Linked DNA regions of Homo sapiens. The protein of the gene in region 1 binds, or shares a complex with, the protein of each later gene. Each region holds a gene or a part of one and is shown on either strand. Other genes may lie near its edges. A codon is read from its position in the direction of its gene.

Region 1 (8,391 bases):
CAGGTATGTGCCACCACACCTGGTTAATTTTTGTATTTTTAGTAGAGACAGGGTTTTGCCATGTTGCCCAGGCTGGTCTTGAACTCCTGACTTCAGGTGATCTACCACCTTGGTCTCCCAGTGTTGGGATTACAGGTGTGATGTAATGGCACCCGGCCCCATTTTCCTCTTCTCTCAGCAGCACTTCCCATCCCTTTCCCAACTCCTCGCCCCACAGCTCAGCACCAAGACCCTGTGCTTGGCAGATCTTTGAATCAAGCACTGAGAAATTAGAACATTTTGAAAAAGCAAACATTTCCTTTTCCACCCCCGGTGATTACAAAAGTAACATATGTTCTGTGTCAGAAATCTGGAAAAACACCACGAAGAGGGAAAATGAGGCCGGGTGTGGTCGCTCATGCCTGTAATTCCAGCACTTTGGGAGGATCACTTGAGGCCAGGAGTTTGAGACCAGCCAGGGCAACATAGTGAGACTGTCTCTCCAAAAATTAAAAAAATCAGCCAGGCGTGGTGGTGCACGCCTGAAGTCCCAGGAGGTGAGTCCCCTTGAGTCCAGGAATTGGAGGCTGCAGTGAGCTATAATTGTGCCACTGCACTCCAGCCTGGGTGACAGAGCAAGACACTGTCTCAAAAAAAAATTAAAAAATTAAAAAATTAAAAAAAAAAAAGAAGGGAGAATGAGACTCTCAGTAATCCTACCATGAAGTGGTAACTACAGTCAATGCTTGTGTGACCCTGCATTTCTTTGTTTTCAAACAGTCTCACTCTGTTGCCCAGGCTGGAGTGCAGTGGCATATCTCAGCTCACTGTGACCTCTGCCTCCTGGGTTCAAGCGATTCTCCTGCCTCAGCCTCCTGCGTAGCTAGGATTACAGACGCCTGCCACATTTTTGTATTTTTAGTAGAGATGGGGTTTCCCCAATTGGCCAGGCTGGTCTCGAACTCCTGACCTCAAGTGATCCACCCACCTTGGCCTCCCAAAGTGTTGGGATTATAGGTGTGAGCCACCGTGCCTGGCTGTGACCCAGGATTTCTAAGAGAATGCAAAGATGTGCTGCTTCTAAACTTCCTTAGGCACCTCAGCCCCCTCAGCTCACTTTTGACCTTCCAATCTGTTTCATCCCGGCTAGAGTCTCCCCAAAAGCAGAGGCAGGGGAATTCCCACAAAGGAATGCCCTAAATCATCCCAAGATGGGGCCAGTGGGGATTTCAAGAAAACACCAATTACCAGAGCAATCAGTCCAAAGCATTTATTAGGGAAACTTACAGAGTGCTCCAACAATCATCAAGACAGGAACGAAAAGGGGTGTTCTACCGAGGCACAGCTGCAGCTAGGGGGTCAGGACATGGAGTTCAGATGCACAAGTCAGCATGTCTGGTTTCCATTACTATTTTGAGTAATGGGCCACCTGCTGGTCTGGCAGGTGTCAGCTTGACCAAAACAGGATTGTGGATTCTTTCCCTGGGATGGGACGTTCCACAACCTTGGTTTTATATTTAGATTTTCTTTTTTTTGTTTGGTTTCTTTTGGAGACGGAGTCTCACTATGTCTCCCAGGCTGGAGTGTAGTGGCGTGACCTCGGCTCACTGCAGCCTCTGCCCCCCTGGGTTCAAGAGAAGAATTCTCCTGCCTCAGCCTCCCAAGTAGCTGAGACTACAGGCGCAGGCCACCACGCCCGGCTAATTTTTTGTATTTTAGTAGAGACGGGGTTTCAGCGTGTTGCCCAGGCTGGTCTCCAACTCCTGAACTCACACAATCCGCCTGCCTTGGCCTCCCAAAGTGCCAGGATTACAGGTGTGAGCCACCACACCTGGCCTATATTTAGATTTTCAAGGCCAGTTTCTGGAATTTTTAAGCAAAGTACACGGGATAAACATTATGAGACCTTAGCACAGAAAAACAGAAGAGAGGTTGGGTGTGGTTGCTTACACTTGTAATCCCAGCACTTTGGGAGGCCGAGGCAGGCGGATCACCTGAGGTCGGGAGATCAAGACCAGCCTGACCAACATGGAGAAACCCCGTCTCTACCAAAAATACAAAATTAGCTAGGCATGGTGGTGCATGCCTGTAATCCTGGGAGTTTCTCTCTTGTTGCCCAGGCTGGAGTGCAATGGCACCATCTCGACTCACCGCAACCTCCGCCTCCCTGGTTCATGCGATTCTCCTGCCTCAGCCTCCCAAGTGGCTGGGATTACAGGCATGCGCCACCATGCCAGGCTAATTTTGTATTTTTACAAAATTAAAGAGATGGGGTTTCTCCATGTTGGTCAGGCAGGTCTTGAACTCCTGGCCTTAGGTGATCTGCCCACTTTGGCCTCCCAAACTGCTGGGATTACAGGTTTGAGCCACTGCACCTGGCCTTGGAGAATTCTTAAACCACTGTAGCAGTATAGTTCAACGATAGTAAAAGGGGGTTTTAGTCTCTGGATCCTGCCATTCAAAAGCAAATAGGCCGGTTGCGGTGCCTCACGCCTGTAATCCCAGCACTTTGGGAGGTCGAGGTGGGCAGATCACTTGAGGTCAGCAGTTCGAGACCAGCCTGGACAACATGGTGAAATCCTGTCTCTACTAAAAATACAAAAATTAGCTGGGCGTGATGGCATGTGCCTGTAATCCCAGCTACTAAGGAGGCTGAGGCAGGAGAATCGCTTGAACACGGGAGGTTGTGGTGAGCTGAGTTTGTTCCACTGCACTCCAGCCTGGGCAACAGAGCGAGACTCTGCCTCAAAAAAAAAAAAAAAAAAAATTGAGATAGCCTCACTCTGTGTTGCCCAGGATGGAGGGATGGAGTGCAGTGGCGCGATCTCAGCTCACTGCAACCTCCGCCTCCCGTGTTCAAGCGATTCTCCTGCCTCAGCCTCCAGGTAGCTGGGATTACAGGTGCCTGCCACCACACCTGGCTAATTTTTTTTTTTTTTTTTTAATAGAGACGGGGTTTCACCATGTTGGCCAGGCTGGTCTCGAACTCCTGACCTTGTGATCTGCCCACCTCAGCCTCCCAAAGCGCTGGGATTACAGGTGTGAGCCACTGTGCCTAGCCTCAAAAAAAATTTTTTTTTAAAGGCCAGATATCTCCACAGGTAGCTTACTTTATGTTATGGAAAGTGCCAATTTACTGAGCACCAAATGAATACATAATGGAGTATTCTTCATGTAGATTAAATAATGTGACCATACTCTCCCTCTTTCCCCTCCAGCCCACTTTTCCCTTTAAATAATGAAGCCCTCAAAATCATATTTGGAAAAAAGCACGGATCACAGATTGTTCCTGGGGTTTTGTGTTCCTTTTCTCCCAGGCTTGTCCTTAACCTTGTCTACATAAACCTGTCAATTTATTGAGACCTGTCTCAGATACTTTTTGGTTTACAAATTGTTTGACTGAATTGAGGAAGGACGGTCCTTGTCCCACCAGCCCTCACAAACCTGGAATCTGGTACAAAGTGCTCCCCAAAGATACAGCTGCAGGAGATTGTGCAAATGTGCAATGTTTCCAGTTACCTCGCAGGCATTTAAGGTTGGTGACTGGCAGTGAGAAAGGAGAATAGGGAAAATGAGGCAGAAGAATAGCAAAGGGAATTAAAAGTTGGATAAAGGGTAAAATACGTAAAAGCAGAGAGCAGAAGCAAGGTGAAAGGGCACCCGCCCCTTCTTGCTCACCCAGCAAGAAGCAAGATAAATGGCAGAAGCTGAGGAGACAAAACAAAAGGAAGATTAAAAACTGAGTAAAGGCCGGGCACAGTGGCTCACACCCAACACTTTGGGAGGCTGAGGCAGGCGGATCACGAGGTCAGGAGATCGAGACCATCCTGGCTAACACAGTGAAACCCCGTCTCTACTAAAAATACAAAAAAATTAGCCGAGGGTGGTGGGGGGCGCCTGTAGTCCCTGTTACTCGGGAGGCGGCTGAGGCAGGACAACGGCGTGAACCCGGGAGGCGGAGCTTGCCGTGAGCCCAGATCACGCCACTGCACTCCAGCCTGGGCGACAGAGCGAGACTCCATAAATAAATAAATAAATAAATAAATAAAATTAAAAAAAAAACAGTAAAAATCCCACGGCCGGGGAAATCAGGACCAAACCAGTAAGGAGCAGCTCTTTAGGCATAAGCACGCGCATTAAAGACAAAAAGTATCCTTAACATGATAAGGATAACCAGCTCATTAGCGCTCATGCATATGGACGGCATATCATGAATGGAGGCGGCTCTCAAGCACACAGGGGCCAAAGTAAGCAACACACCTATCATTCAAAAAGGTAGACACTGGCTAGATATTAGGCAGCCTTGGGAAGAGAAAAAAAGCCTGGCCAATAAGGTGAAACCCCATCTCTACTAAAAGTACAAAAATTAGCCGGGCGTGGTGGCGGGCGCCTGTAATCCCAGCTACTTACTCGGGAGGCTGAGGCAGGAGAATCGCTTGAACCCGGAAGGCGGAGGTTGCGGTGAGCCGGCACCGCGCCATTGCACTCCAGCCTGTGCAACAGAGCGAGACTACGTCTCAGAAAAAAAAAAAAAAAAAGACCCAAACTATACCAAGCTGGGGCTGATCTTATCTCGCAGAGGTCAGTCCGCTCTCCCCACTCCGAGAGTGGAATACTGTGCTTAATAAACTTGCAGCTTTGCCATCTCTGTGTGTCTGGTCCAAATCTTTCTTCAGGACACCAAGAGCCTGGAACTGTCCGGCACCATGCGGTAACAGCAGCTGTTGGGCAGCGTAGAGTCTACTCTAGGATCAAGCTTCGCCTACTGACTGGAGTCCGTATCCCGGGGGAACGCGATGGCCAGAGGGAAGAGGTGAGCCAAATGCTCACCAAGCCCAGCCCTGAATGAACCCAGGGGGTCAGAAGGGATGACTGCAGAACTCGTCCCCCACCCCCACCCTCCGCCCTTGCTCCTAGTTGCCGCTGCAAGAGGCTTCGGGCTCAGGATCAGGAGCTTACCCCTACTCCCGGGACCCTCTGGCGTCCCCACCATGTGACCGAGTCTCCCTGCAACAAACAATGACTTCAAACGAGCTGGGCGCCGGCGCCTGACCTCTGACTCTCGCTCCACGCCCCTTCCCTGGCCACAAACCCGCCGAGGCCCCCCTCTCTACCCGGCGCGCCTACCACAGGCGCGACACCTGTCAAGCCTTGGGACACCGAAACCGTACCTGGGAACAGCAAACACACCACAGACTGCAGACCCGGAAGAACTTGTCCCAGTGTTGACCACACCCCCTGGCTAGGGGCAGGGCTTCCGGCCTCGAACTTTAACTTCCGCTTCCGGTTCCTAGCGTTAACTGCGACCGGGGTTCAGCGCTCGGGTGAGGAGCTGGTGGCGTCGGCAGGTTCGAGGCGATTCGAGGTGAGGGGGTCAAGCGGAGAGGCTCGGAGTCGGAGAAAGCTGTCGCGACCCAGCCACCCAGGGTCTGGGGTCGGTGGGAGGTGAGGCCAGGGAGTTTTGTGGCAGGGCTTTCAGGCGGCGAGAAGGGGCGGAGGCGCGGCTCCCCGGGGTTCGCGGCCCTGGGACAGGGGACTTGGGGCCTGGGAGTATTCGAGTCCGGGGGGTTGGGGGCAGAACGGAAGGCTCAGTAACCTGGAATTTTAGGGCCTGGGACTGGGAGACTTGTAGGCTGGGGCTTCTGGGCCTGGGAGACGCCTGAAGCTCTGACTTTGCTGCCTCCCACCCACCCCCCGCTTTGTGTAGCTCCAGCTAGGATGATCGAGGTTGTTTGCAACGACCGTCTGGGGAAGAAGGTCCGCGTTAAATGCAAGTATCCACTGGCAGCCGAGAGGCAGTGGTACCCGCAGGGGTGCTTGGCGTGAGGCAGGCAACTCAATCTGTGTTGTCGGATGGTTTTAGTTAAACCCGGGAGAGGGGGCGGATGGGGTCCTGGCAGATGGTATTCTGCCCTAGAATGTCCTCTTCCTCGTTCTACCGCTTCCATTTGCCTTAACTGCTCTGCGCCCAGCACGGATGATACCATCGGGGACCTTAAGAAGCTGATTGCAGCCCAAACTGGTACCCGTTGGAACAAGATTGTCCTGAAGAAGTGGTGAGTGCAGCGGTAGAGCCACTGGGTGGACTGGACTAGGCCGGAAGGTTTTGGTTGGGGGAGCGCTGCAGGCAGCCCTTTGCTTAGGCTTGGCTACCTCATTTGGCCTACAGACTGAAGAGCCTCCTTAGCCTTATCTCTGAAATGTCTCTTTTTCTTAGGTACACGATTTTTAAGGACCACGTGTCTCTGGGGGACTGTATCCTTTGTGTGACTTTTTGAGGAAGCATCTACATACCCAGCCTCGGTTATCTGTTCAAAACTAAAGTCTGCATGAGCTTATGCATATTAAGTGTTTAACTTAATACGTGGCACATGGTGAGCACTTAGAAAATGGGAGCTAGGTAATTATTTGGTTGGGGAGGAGAGTGGTTGGTGAAATAGTTTGACTTCAAGTTCAAAATATTTATTACTGACCTCCACCTGAGTGCTGGACAGTAGGTCAGGGTGGGGTGAGACTCAGGCATATCTATTGTGCAAAAGGAGCAGAAACTTTTTACAATTTTTATTTTATTTATTTATTTTTTTGAGACAGTCTGGCTCTGTCGCCCAGGCTGGAGTGCAGTGGCACGATCTTGACCCACTGCAACCTCCACCTCCCGGGTTCAAGCAATTCTGCCTCAGCTTCCCAAGTAGCTGGGATTACAGGTGTGTGCCACCACTCCCTGCTAGTTTTTGTATTTTTAGTAGAGATGAGGTTCCACCATGTATGCCAGGCTAGTCTCAAACTCCTGGCCTCAAGTGATCCTCCCGCCTCGGCCTCCCAAAGTGCTGGGATTATAGCCGTGAGCCACTGTGCCTGGCCTAGAAGGAACAGAAACTTTTTTTTTTTTTTTTGAGATGGAGTTTTGCTCTTGTTGCCCAGGCTGGAGTGCAGTGGTACAATCTTGGCTCACTGCAGCCTCTACCTCCCAGGTTTAAGCGATTTTCCTGTCTCAGCCTTCCAAGTAGCTGGGATTACAGGTGCCCACCACCACACCCAGCTAACTTTTTGTATTTTTAGTAGAGACAGGGTTTCATCGTGTTGGCCAGGCTGGTCTCAAACTCCTGACGTCAAGTGAGCCACCTGCTTCGTCCTCTCAAAGTGCTGGGATTACAGGTGTGAGCCACTGCACCCAGCCAGAAATTCTTTTGTAAAGTTTTGGTTCTCTCCAAATAAAAATGGCCTGGTCCAAAATGGGCTTCCTTAGCCCTGGGCTGAGACCTCAGGCCACCTGACCCGGCTGTGAATGGATGAGAGGGGTGGGGACGGAAGTCAGAGTCAGGATTCCTTAACACCTTTCCTTCAGATGAAATCCACGATGGGATGAACCTGGAGCTTTATTATCAATAGATGAGAATCCTCATCTTCCTGCCCCGCTTTCCTCTCCCATCCTCATCCCCCACACTGGGATAGATGCTTGTTTGTAAAAACTCACCTTAATAAAGACTTAGATGTTGCTTTGTTGTTGTCTCTGTATGACAGCTGTCTAGTGATGGGTGGATCAGTCGCTGTTTGGTCATCACTGCACCATCAGCATGCAGCTGCTAAAATAAGAGCTCTGATCAACTGGATCCATGAGGGCAGAGTAGACCAGCAGGCTGGGAGTCTGTGTGGGAGCCCAGAGAGAGCTCTGGGGTTTGCTGTGGGTGTCTGAAGGTCAAGAGACTCTGGGATTATTGTCACCCTAATAAACCAAAGAACCTCCGGCTAATGACAGTAGATGTAATTGTTAGGAATTCAGATTCTGAAATCACACAGACCATGTGTGGAATGTCAGCTCTGCCACCAAGCAGCTGAGTGACACTAGGCAAAATTTTTTAACCTCTGTAAGCCTTTACTTCCTTATCCACTGGAAATAATTGCGTTTACTTCATGTCTGCTTTCAATCGGCATATTGTGAGGAGGTATAAATGAGTTTAAAGCATGTTTAAACATCCACAGTTCCTGGCATTTTTTTTTTTTCTTTTTTTGAGACAGGATCTTGCTCTGTCACCCAGGCTGGAATGCAGTGGTATGTTCATAGCCCACTGCAGCCCTGAACTGGACTCAACACAGTCCTCCTGCATCAGCCTCCCAAGTAGCTGGGCAGTGTGTACCACCACGCCAGCTAATTTTAAAATTATTATTATTATTTATTTTATTTGAGACAGAGTCTCGCTCTGTCACCCAGGCTGGAGTGCAGTGGCACGATCTCAGCTCACTGCAACCTCTGCCTCCTGGGTTCAAGCAATTCTCCTGCCTCACCTGAGGCAGGAGACTGGGACTACAGGCGTGCCCCATGACACCAGTTAATTTTTGTATTTTTAGTAGAGATGGGGTTTCACCATGTTGGCCAGGCTGGTCTCAAACTGCTGACCTCAAGTGGTCCACCCT
Region 2 (7,544 bases), on another chromosome or scaffold:
AGCACGGGGGAGGCTTTCTCACATGAAAGTGTGCTAATCAGAGTTGGAAAGATTGTTTAAATCATCTTAGCCAACAGTTGACTTATAGAAGAGAAAACTAAAACCTAAGAGTAAAGTGGCATTCACTGGTTAGACGCAGACCAGGCTGGTGCCCATGTTTCCTGCTTTGGAGGCCAGGGCCCTTCCCAGTGTCCTAGGCTGCCTGGGGCAGACTTTGTGTTTGGGACCACTCACTCCCACCCTGTTTCTCCTCTTGTCTGTCTGGAAATGCACATGGCACCCTGTGTCTTTAATAGCCCCTAACACTTGTATCTCTTGTTGTCAGCAAACTCCGGGCAAAGTTGGGGCTGAAACCCTTGGAGGTTAATGCCATCAAGAAGGGTGAGTATGGGGCTGAGGATAGGGTTTGGGGGAAAGAGGCCATCTGAAGGGGTCTTTGAAGAAGGTGGGGTTAGAGGGCAGGTTCAGCACTGTTTAGTGGTCTTACACATGCATATTTGCCGGAAGGCATGAGGTCCCTCCTTGCTGGTATAATGGGGATCTGGGGCTCCGCCTGCTCTCTGAGTTGGAGCTGTGGCCGTCGCATACTCACTCTGGCTGTGAGTTGTTAGATGGACTGGAAGATGTGCACACTTGCTGCAGACTGCGCTGTGCGGGGGTGGGTTTCTTGTTTTTCTTTAAAGCACGATTTGAGGGGCTTTGGAAGCCACAGAGGGTCCTGTTGTGCTGCATGGGTTGGCCAGGAGTGTGGGGACGAAGTGGGAGCAGGGAGGTGAAGGATTGTTCCTTCCTGTCCTGACCCCTTCTGGCCCCCTGAGCTGGAAGGGGGCAGGGTGAGTGGCTCCCTCCTCTCCCCACCAGCCATGGGCGGGCATAGCCTCACGTCTGGGCCCCCCTTCCAGAGGCGGGCACCAAGGAGGAGCCCGTGACAGCTGATGTCATCAACCCTATGGCCTTGCGACAGCGAGAGGAGCTGCGGGAGAAGCTGGCGGCTGCCAAGGAGAAGCGCCTGCTGAACCAAAAGCTGGGGTGAGGGGTCCTGGCCAGGGCAGGCAAGGGAAGGGCTGGGGAGGCCACCATCCTTGGCTGCCTCTTGAGTGGGGTGGGGAGCAGGAGCTGGGCTCCTTGAGCATCACTTTTTCCCCTCTTCAGGAAGATAAAGACCCTAGGAGAGGATGACCCCTGGCTGGACGACACTGCAGCCTGGATCGAGAGGAGCCGGCAGCTGCAGAAGGAGAAGGACCTGGCAGAGAAGAGGGTGAGCACCTGGGCAGCATGGGGTGGTCGCCTAGTGCTTCTGGTGGCCTGACGGCACTGAGGCGGGGGCCAACCCCAGAGAGGTGAGACGGGGCTTGGAGAAGGGAAGGGCCGTGGTCGGTAGCATCTACTTTGGATTCTCAGCAGCTTTCCTGCAAGGCCTGCCCTTTTTGCACTCCGCTTGGTAGAGCCCTGAGTGTTTTCTGGTGATGCTGAGTGGCCTGAAGTCCTAGGTCACCCCTCCCTGTCCCGTAGGCCAAGTTACTGGAGGAGATGGACCAAGAGTTTGGTGTCAGCACTCTGGTGGAGGAGGAGTTCGGGCAGAGGCGGCAGGTGAGGCTGCAGCAGGGGTGGTACAGGGGACACTGGTGGCCTTGCTACCGGAATCCCGAGGTTGGGTGCGTGGAGGGAGGTTCCTGACTCGCCGATTCTTCCCTTAGGACCTGTACAGTGCCCGGGACCTGCAGGGCCTCACCGTGGAGCATGCCATTGATTCCTTCCGAGAAGGGGAGACAATGATTCTTACCCTCAAGGACAAAGGTAATGCGAGCTGGGTGCCCTGGGTGGGGGCACAGCCTCTGCTGAGTTGCGGACAAGTGTGAATGGCCACTGCTCTGTGCTGCCCCCAGGCGTGCTGCAGGAGGAGGAGGACGTGCTGGTGAACGTGAACCTGGTGGATAAGGAGCGGGCAGAGAAAAATGTGGAGCTGCGGAAGAAGAAGCCTGACTACCTGCCCTATGCCGAGGACGAGAGCGTGGACGACCTGGCGCAGGCACGGCCTGGGCAGGCTGGGTGGCGGGGGCTGAGGTGGAGAATGTCGGGAATGGGGGCTCTGAGGAGGTGGTGGCTCAGTGGCTTTTCAGGAGCCAGCCTGGGTCCCAACCTGTACCTCTTGCCTTGCAGCAAAAACCTCGCTCTATCCTGTCCAAGTATGACGAAGAGCTTGAAGGGGAGCGGCCACATTCCTTCCGCTTGGAGCAGGGCGGCACGGCTGATGGCCTGCGGGAGCGGGAGCTGGAGGAGATCCGGGCCAAGCTGCGGCTGCAGGCTCAGTCCCTGAGCACAGTGGGGCCCCGGCTGGCCTCCGAATACCTCACGCCTGAGGAGATGGTGAGCCCTCCCGTGCCTTATACTCGGGGTCAAGATTCTCCCTCCCTCTGGGGCTCCTGCCCTGCCCGCAGGCACTGAGAAGACAGGGCGAGTATTTGTGTTCACAAAGCGCTTGGCCTCGCGGGTGAGCACTAAATGGCAACCGGGGGAGGCACCAGGTGTGGATGGGTCAGGGCTGCTGAGCCAGATGGGCCCCAGTCTGTTTCGGCTCTGCCATGCTGCCAGCTCGTGCCTTGGATAAACCATTTAACTGTGAGCCTGGGGCACCCCATCTGGAATGGCAGTGACAGGAGCCGCCTCCTGAGGTTGCTGTGAGGATGAGTGACAGCGTGGGTGAGGGGTGACTGGAGAGGTGTGCGTGGATTCTGTCCACAGGGTGACTGTGTGAACGTGAGGTAGACAGCTGGCGCGGTAGGCGTCTTCCTCAGTGGGTAAGAGCAGGACTCTGGAGCCAGACTGCCCAGCTCTCCCACCTAGGAGCTGGGCAACCTTGGGGAAGGTACTTAACCTCCCTGTGCCCCAGTTTCCCTAGCTCACCAGTGGAATTGAGATAGTAACCACCCCACATGTTGCTCATGTGTGGGAAGCGCTCAGGACGCTGGCTAGCACAGAGGAACACCAAAGAAGTGTTCACCCTCGAGGGCTTGTGGCGACCTGCCTTTCTGTGGCCCCCGCTCCATGTCTCGCCCCTCTTCCCTTAAGGTGACCTTTAAAAAGACCAAGCGGAGGGTGAAGAAAATCCGCAAGAAGGAGAAGGAGGTAGTAGTGCGGGCAGATGACTTGCTGCCTCTCGGGGACCAGACTCAGGATGGGGACTTTGGTTCCAGGTGGGCTTGGACACGGTGGTGGGGCGAGATGGCTGGGCTGGGGTGGCCTGGGGACCGGTGCTCACCAGAGAGGCCTCCTTCCCTCAGACTGCGGGGACGGGGTCGCCGCCGAGTGTCCGAAGTGGAGGAGGAGAAGGAGCCTGTGCCTCAGCCCCTGCCGTCGGACGACACCCGAGTGGAGAACATGGACATCAGTGATGAGGGTGAGGGCCCGGCCAGGGGGTGGGAGGGGCAGGGACAGGAGCCGCGGGTTGGAGGAGATGGTCTGAGCAGGCATCCCCTGTGTTTCCCCCAGAGGAAGGTGGAGCTCCACCGCCGGGGTCCCCGCAGGTGCTGGAGGAGGACGAGGCGGAGCTGGAGCTGCAGAAGCAGCTGGAGAAGGGACGCCGGCTGCGACAGTTACAGCAGCTACAGCAGCTGCGAGACAGTGGCGAGAAGGTGAGGCTGGGCATGGGCAGGGTGACTGCGTCAGCAGTCACCTGTCCTCACGAGCACCTGTGTCATAGGCGACAGCCACATTCCTGTCTGAAGCCTCTTTTCCATTTGTTTTTTGTTTTCTGGGTTTGTTTTTTTTTTTTTTTTTTGAGACAGAGTTTCGCTCTTTCGCCCAGGCTGGAATGCAGTGGCGCAGCCTCAGCTCACTGCAACCTCCGCCTCCCAGGCTCAAGTGATTCTTATTCCTCAGCCTCCTGAGTAGCTGGGATTACAGGCGCACGCCACCAGACCCGGCTAATTTTTATATTTTTAGTAGAGACGGGGTTTCACTATGTTGGCCAGGCTGGTCTCCAACTCCTGACCTCATGATCTGCCTGCCTCTGCCTCCGAAAATGCTAAAATTACAGGTGTGTGCCACCGTGCCCAGCCCTCTATTCTGTTTAAAGTCATGTTTTGCAAAAATTTTTAGATGCCTGCTTTAGTAGGGGATCCTTTCCTTGCCTCTCTCTTCTGTGCATGTTTGTTGAATGCCTGCTGTGAGTAGTGCATTGTTCTTGGGCTGAGAAGGTCATTGGTGAACAGGATAGCCATGGGGCCCTGGGCTCATGGAGCTGGCTTTCTAGAGTGTGTGGGGGAGAGCGTGGGGAGCAGCAGTGACTGTTAATGCAGGAACGGTAATTTCTGATGGTGGTGGGAGCTGGGCACTCAGTAAACCAAGATAACGTGCCGGGGGTTGGGATCTTAGATGGGAGAGTGCAGGGAAGACCTTTCCAAGGTACTAGTTCATCTGAGACTTGAGTCACACAGAGGAGCCAGCCTTGCGGGGGGTTAGGGGTGGCAGCAGGTGGACAGGCTGGCATTTAGGCAGTAGACCAACCAGCAGGTGTCTCAGGAGAAGTGACCTTAGAGTGCCTGAGGGCCAGGGAGGCTGGAGCAGAGCAGAGAGTGAGGGGTGGCGTGAGCTGAGATGGAGAGGTAGGGGGCCAACGCAGGGGGAGCCTTGACCCCATGGTCGTCGCTGCCCCAGAGGCACAGTGGGCCGGGCACTGCTCACATGTTCTGTGTTTGTTGATTCATTCCATCCTCCCAGCAACACCCTATGAGGAAGGTTCTGTCATCTCCATCATTCCAGAGGCCACACTTTTAGCCCTACCCCACACTTCTCACCTAGGAAGAAGCCAAGAAAGCGTGTCCAGGAGAGGGAGCAAGGGAGGGAAGCTTCTGATACTACTGGGAGGCAAAGTGGGGACAGTTGCAGTGGATTCAGGACCCGGAGGACAGGGGAGTTGAAAAAGTGAGGGCTGAACCCGGGACGGAGGCCAGGCTTACTGTTGAAGGGCTGGAGAGGACGTATTTGAGGTTTAAGGGCATATGGTCTCTGTTAGGCACCTTGAATGCTGTGCTGTTATAGGGAAAACAGCCAAGACAGTCTGTAAGTGAGTGGGCGTGGCTGGGTTCCAGTAATACTTTATTTCTAAGAACAGGTGTTGGGACATAGTTTGCCCGGCTAAAAAGGAACAGAGAAATGGAGCAATAGGCTGACAGGGCTGTTTTATGACTGAAATGAACATAAGGGTTTCTAGCCCCGTGGATCTCAGCCTGCCTGCACATTAGACTCACCTAGGAGGTTGTTTTTGTTGTTGTTTTAAGAAACAAGGTCTCGCTCGGTTGCCCAGGCTGGAGTGCAGTAGTGCAATCATAGTTCACTGCAGCCTTGAACTCCTGGGCTCAAGGGATCCTCCTGCCTCAGGCTCTCAAGTAGCTGAGACTACAGGCGTGCGCCTGTGGGTCTCAGTGTGTTGCCCGGGCTGGTCTCAAATTCCTGAGCTCAAACGATCCTCTCGCCTCCACCTCCCAAAGTGCTGGGGTTACAGGCATGAGCCACCAGGCCTGGTGTAGCCTAGAAAGTTTTTGTTGTTGTTTGAGACGGAGTCTCGCTCTGTCACCAGGCTGGAGTGCAGTGGCGCGATCTCGGCTCACTGCAACCTCCATGTCCCGGGCTCAAGCAATTCTCCTGCCTCAGCCTCCTGAGTAGCTGGAACTACAGGTGCATGCCACCACGCCCAGCTGATTTTTGTATTTTTTAGAAGAAACAGGGTTTCACCGTGTTGGTCAGGCTGGTCTCAAACTCCTCACCTTGTGATCCACCCTCCTCAGCCTCCCAAAGTGCTGGAATTAGAGGCATGAACCACCACACCCGGCCACCTAGAAGGTTTTTTAAACATATGAGCCACACCCCACACACTGTGCAGGCAAAAAAGTGGAAAGCCTATCACAGTGAACACCTTTGTCCTCTAGAGTCAGTAATTATAAACATTGTTACAGTTCTTTTCTTTCTCTTCTTTTTTTCCTGACCACTGGGAGTTGCAGATATCATGACACTGCATCCTTAACGACTTCAGTAGGCATCTGGCGAAATCAGGGCCTTCTCCCGCATAGCCACACTGCCCTAACAAGCCCATAAATGCTGTAAAACAGCAGCTCGCATGCCAACATTTTCCAGTTATCCCCCAAAATGTCTTTTTAGTTTTTTGTTGTAAGCAGCATCCAATCAAGTTTCCCACCCGCAAAGGAGCCTTTTCTGACTACCGGAGATTCTAGAGTATGTGGGAGACACATTTATGACGGAAGAAGAAAAAGATCTCGGCAGGCGGTGCTGGGGCCTAGAGTGCAAGTGGAGGGTGGGCTTGAGTGAAGCCAGCTCGTGTCATCATTTATTTCAGGAGGGAAGGTGGGGAGGGCACAGCAGCTGTGGGTGACCTTGTTTAGGGGAAGTCAAGGCAGCCCATGGCCGATTGTTCTGGTGTTTTTCCAGTGAAGAGGTGGCAGAGGTGGTGGTGCAAAGAGATGGGAGATGCTGTTCTGGAGAGTGGAGAGCAGATACACCCTGGGAGAAGAGCAGGCCTGCCAGTGGCAGTGTGGATGGTGGGATTCATGAGCTGAGGAGGGGGATGGTGGAATTCATGAGCTGCTGAGGGAGGGGGATGGTGGGATTCATGAGCTGAGGAGGGGGATGGTGGGATTCATGAGCTGAGGAGGGGGATGGTGGGATTCATGAGCTGCTGAGGAGGGGGATGGTGGGATTCAGGAGCTGAGGAGGGGGATGGTGGGATTCATGAGCTGAGGAGGGGGATGGTGGGATTCATGAGCTGAGGAGGGGGATGGTGGGATTCATGAGCTGCTGAGGAGGGGGATGGTGGGATTCATGAGGTGCTGAGGAGGGGGGTGGTGGGATTCAGGAGCTGAGGAGGGGGATGGTGGGATTCATGAGCTGAGGAGGGGGATGGTGGGATTCATGAGCTGCTGAGGAGGGGGATGGGATTCATGAGCTGCTGAGGAGGGGGATGGTGGGATTCAGAAGCTGAGGAGGGGGATGGTGGGATTCATGAGCTGCTGAGGAGGGGGATGGTGGGATTCATGAGCTGAGGAGGGGGATGGTGGGATTCATGAGCTGAGGAGGGGGATGGTGGGATTCATGAGCTGCTGAGGAGGGGGATGGTGGGATTCAGGAGCTGCTGAGGAGGGGGATGGTGGGATTCATGAGCTGAGGAGGGGGATGGTGGGATTCATGAGCTGCTGAGGAGGGGGATGGTGGGATTCATGAGCTGCTGAGGAGGGGGATGGTGGGATTCATGAGCTGCTGAGGAGGGGGATGGTGGGATTCATGAGCTGAGGAGGGGGATGGTGGGATTCATGAGCTGAGGAGGGGGATGGTGGGATTCATGAGCTGAGGAGGGGGATGGTGGGATTCATGAGCTGCTGAAGAGGGGGATGGTGGGATTCAGGAGCTGCTGAGGAGGGGGATGGTGGGATTCAGGAGCTGAGGAGGGGGATGGTGGGATTAATGCCCTGAAGCAGTGGATGGTGGGATTGAGGATTGGGTTTTCTAGGGAGGAGGGACAAGGCAGTTAAGGG

What was found. Proteins that work in one complex are often made in the same cells at the same time.
Region 2: the proteins of UBL5 (region 1) and SART1 are in contact, whole or in part, in a crystal structure (PDB 4PYU), measured with the Homo sapiens proteins. Residues at the interface, in NP_001041706.1 of Homo sapiens: Met1 (codon at 5,698), Glu3 (codon at 5,704), Arg15 (codon at 5,740), Lys17 (codon at 5,746), Cys18 (codon at 5,749), Asn19 (codon at 5,752), Asp21 (codon at 5,956), Asp22 (codon at 5,959), Asp26 (codon at 5,971), Lys29 (codon at 5,980), Leu30 (codon at 5,983), Ala33 (codon at 5,992), Gln34 (codon at 5,995); in NP_005137.1 of Homo sapiens: Ser117, Leu118, Ser119, Ile120, Thr123, Leu126, Arg127, Leu130, Leu132, Lys133, Leu135.

Annotation. Positions count from the first base shown.
Region 1 is NC_000019.10:9,822,641-9,831,031, forward strand, and holds UBL5 (ubiquitin-like protein 5), read left to right. Parts: upstream 1-5,277; 5' UTR 5,278-5,344; exon of another isoform or gene 5,345-5,424; intron 5,425-5,686; 5' UTR 5,687-5,697; coding exon 5,698-5,753; intron 5,754-5,951; coding exon 5,952-6,035; intron 6,036-6,196; coding exon 6,197-6,234; intron 6,235-7,324; coding exon 7,325-7,368; 3' UTR 7,369-7,475; downstream 7,476-8,391. UniProt on the Homo sapiens protein: Ubiquitin-like protein that plays a role in cell proliferation and sister chromatid cohesion by associating with spliceosomal proteins. Participates thereby in pre-mRNA splicing by maintaining spliceosome integrity.
Region 2 is NC_000011.10:65,964,190-65,971,733, forward strand, and holds part of SART1 (U4/U6.U5 tri-snRNP-associated protein 1), read left to right. Parts: intron 1-325; coding exon 326-381; intron 382-902; coding exon 903-1,029; intron 1,030-1,152; coding exon 1,153-1,258; intron 1,259-1,512; coding exon 1,513-1,590; intron 1,591-1,697; coding exon 1,698-1,797; intron 1,798-1,886; coding exon 1,887-2,029; intron 2,030-2,160; coding exon 2,161-2,367; intron 2,368-3,069; coding exon 3,070-3,194; intron 3,195-3,281; coding exon 3,282-3,397; intron 3,398-3,489; coding exon 3,490-3,632; intron 3,633-7,544. UniProt on the Homo sapiens protein: Plays a role in mRNA splicing as a component of the U4/U6-U5 tri-snRNP, one of the building blocks of the spliceosome. May also bind to DNA.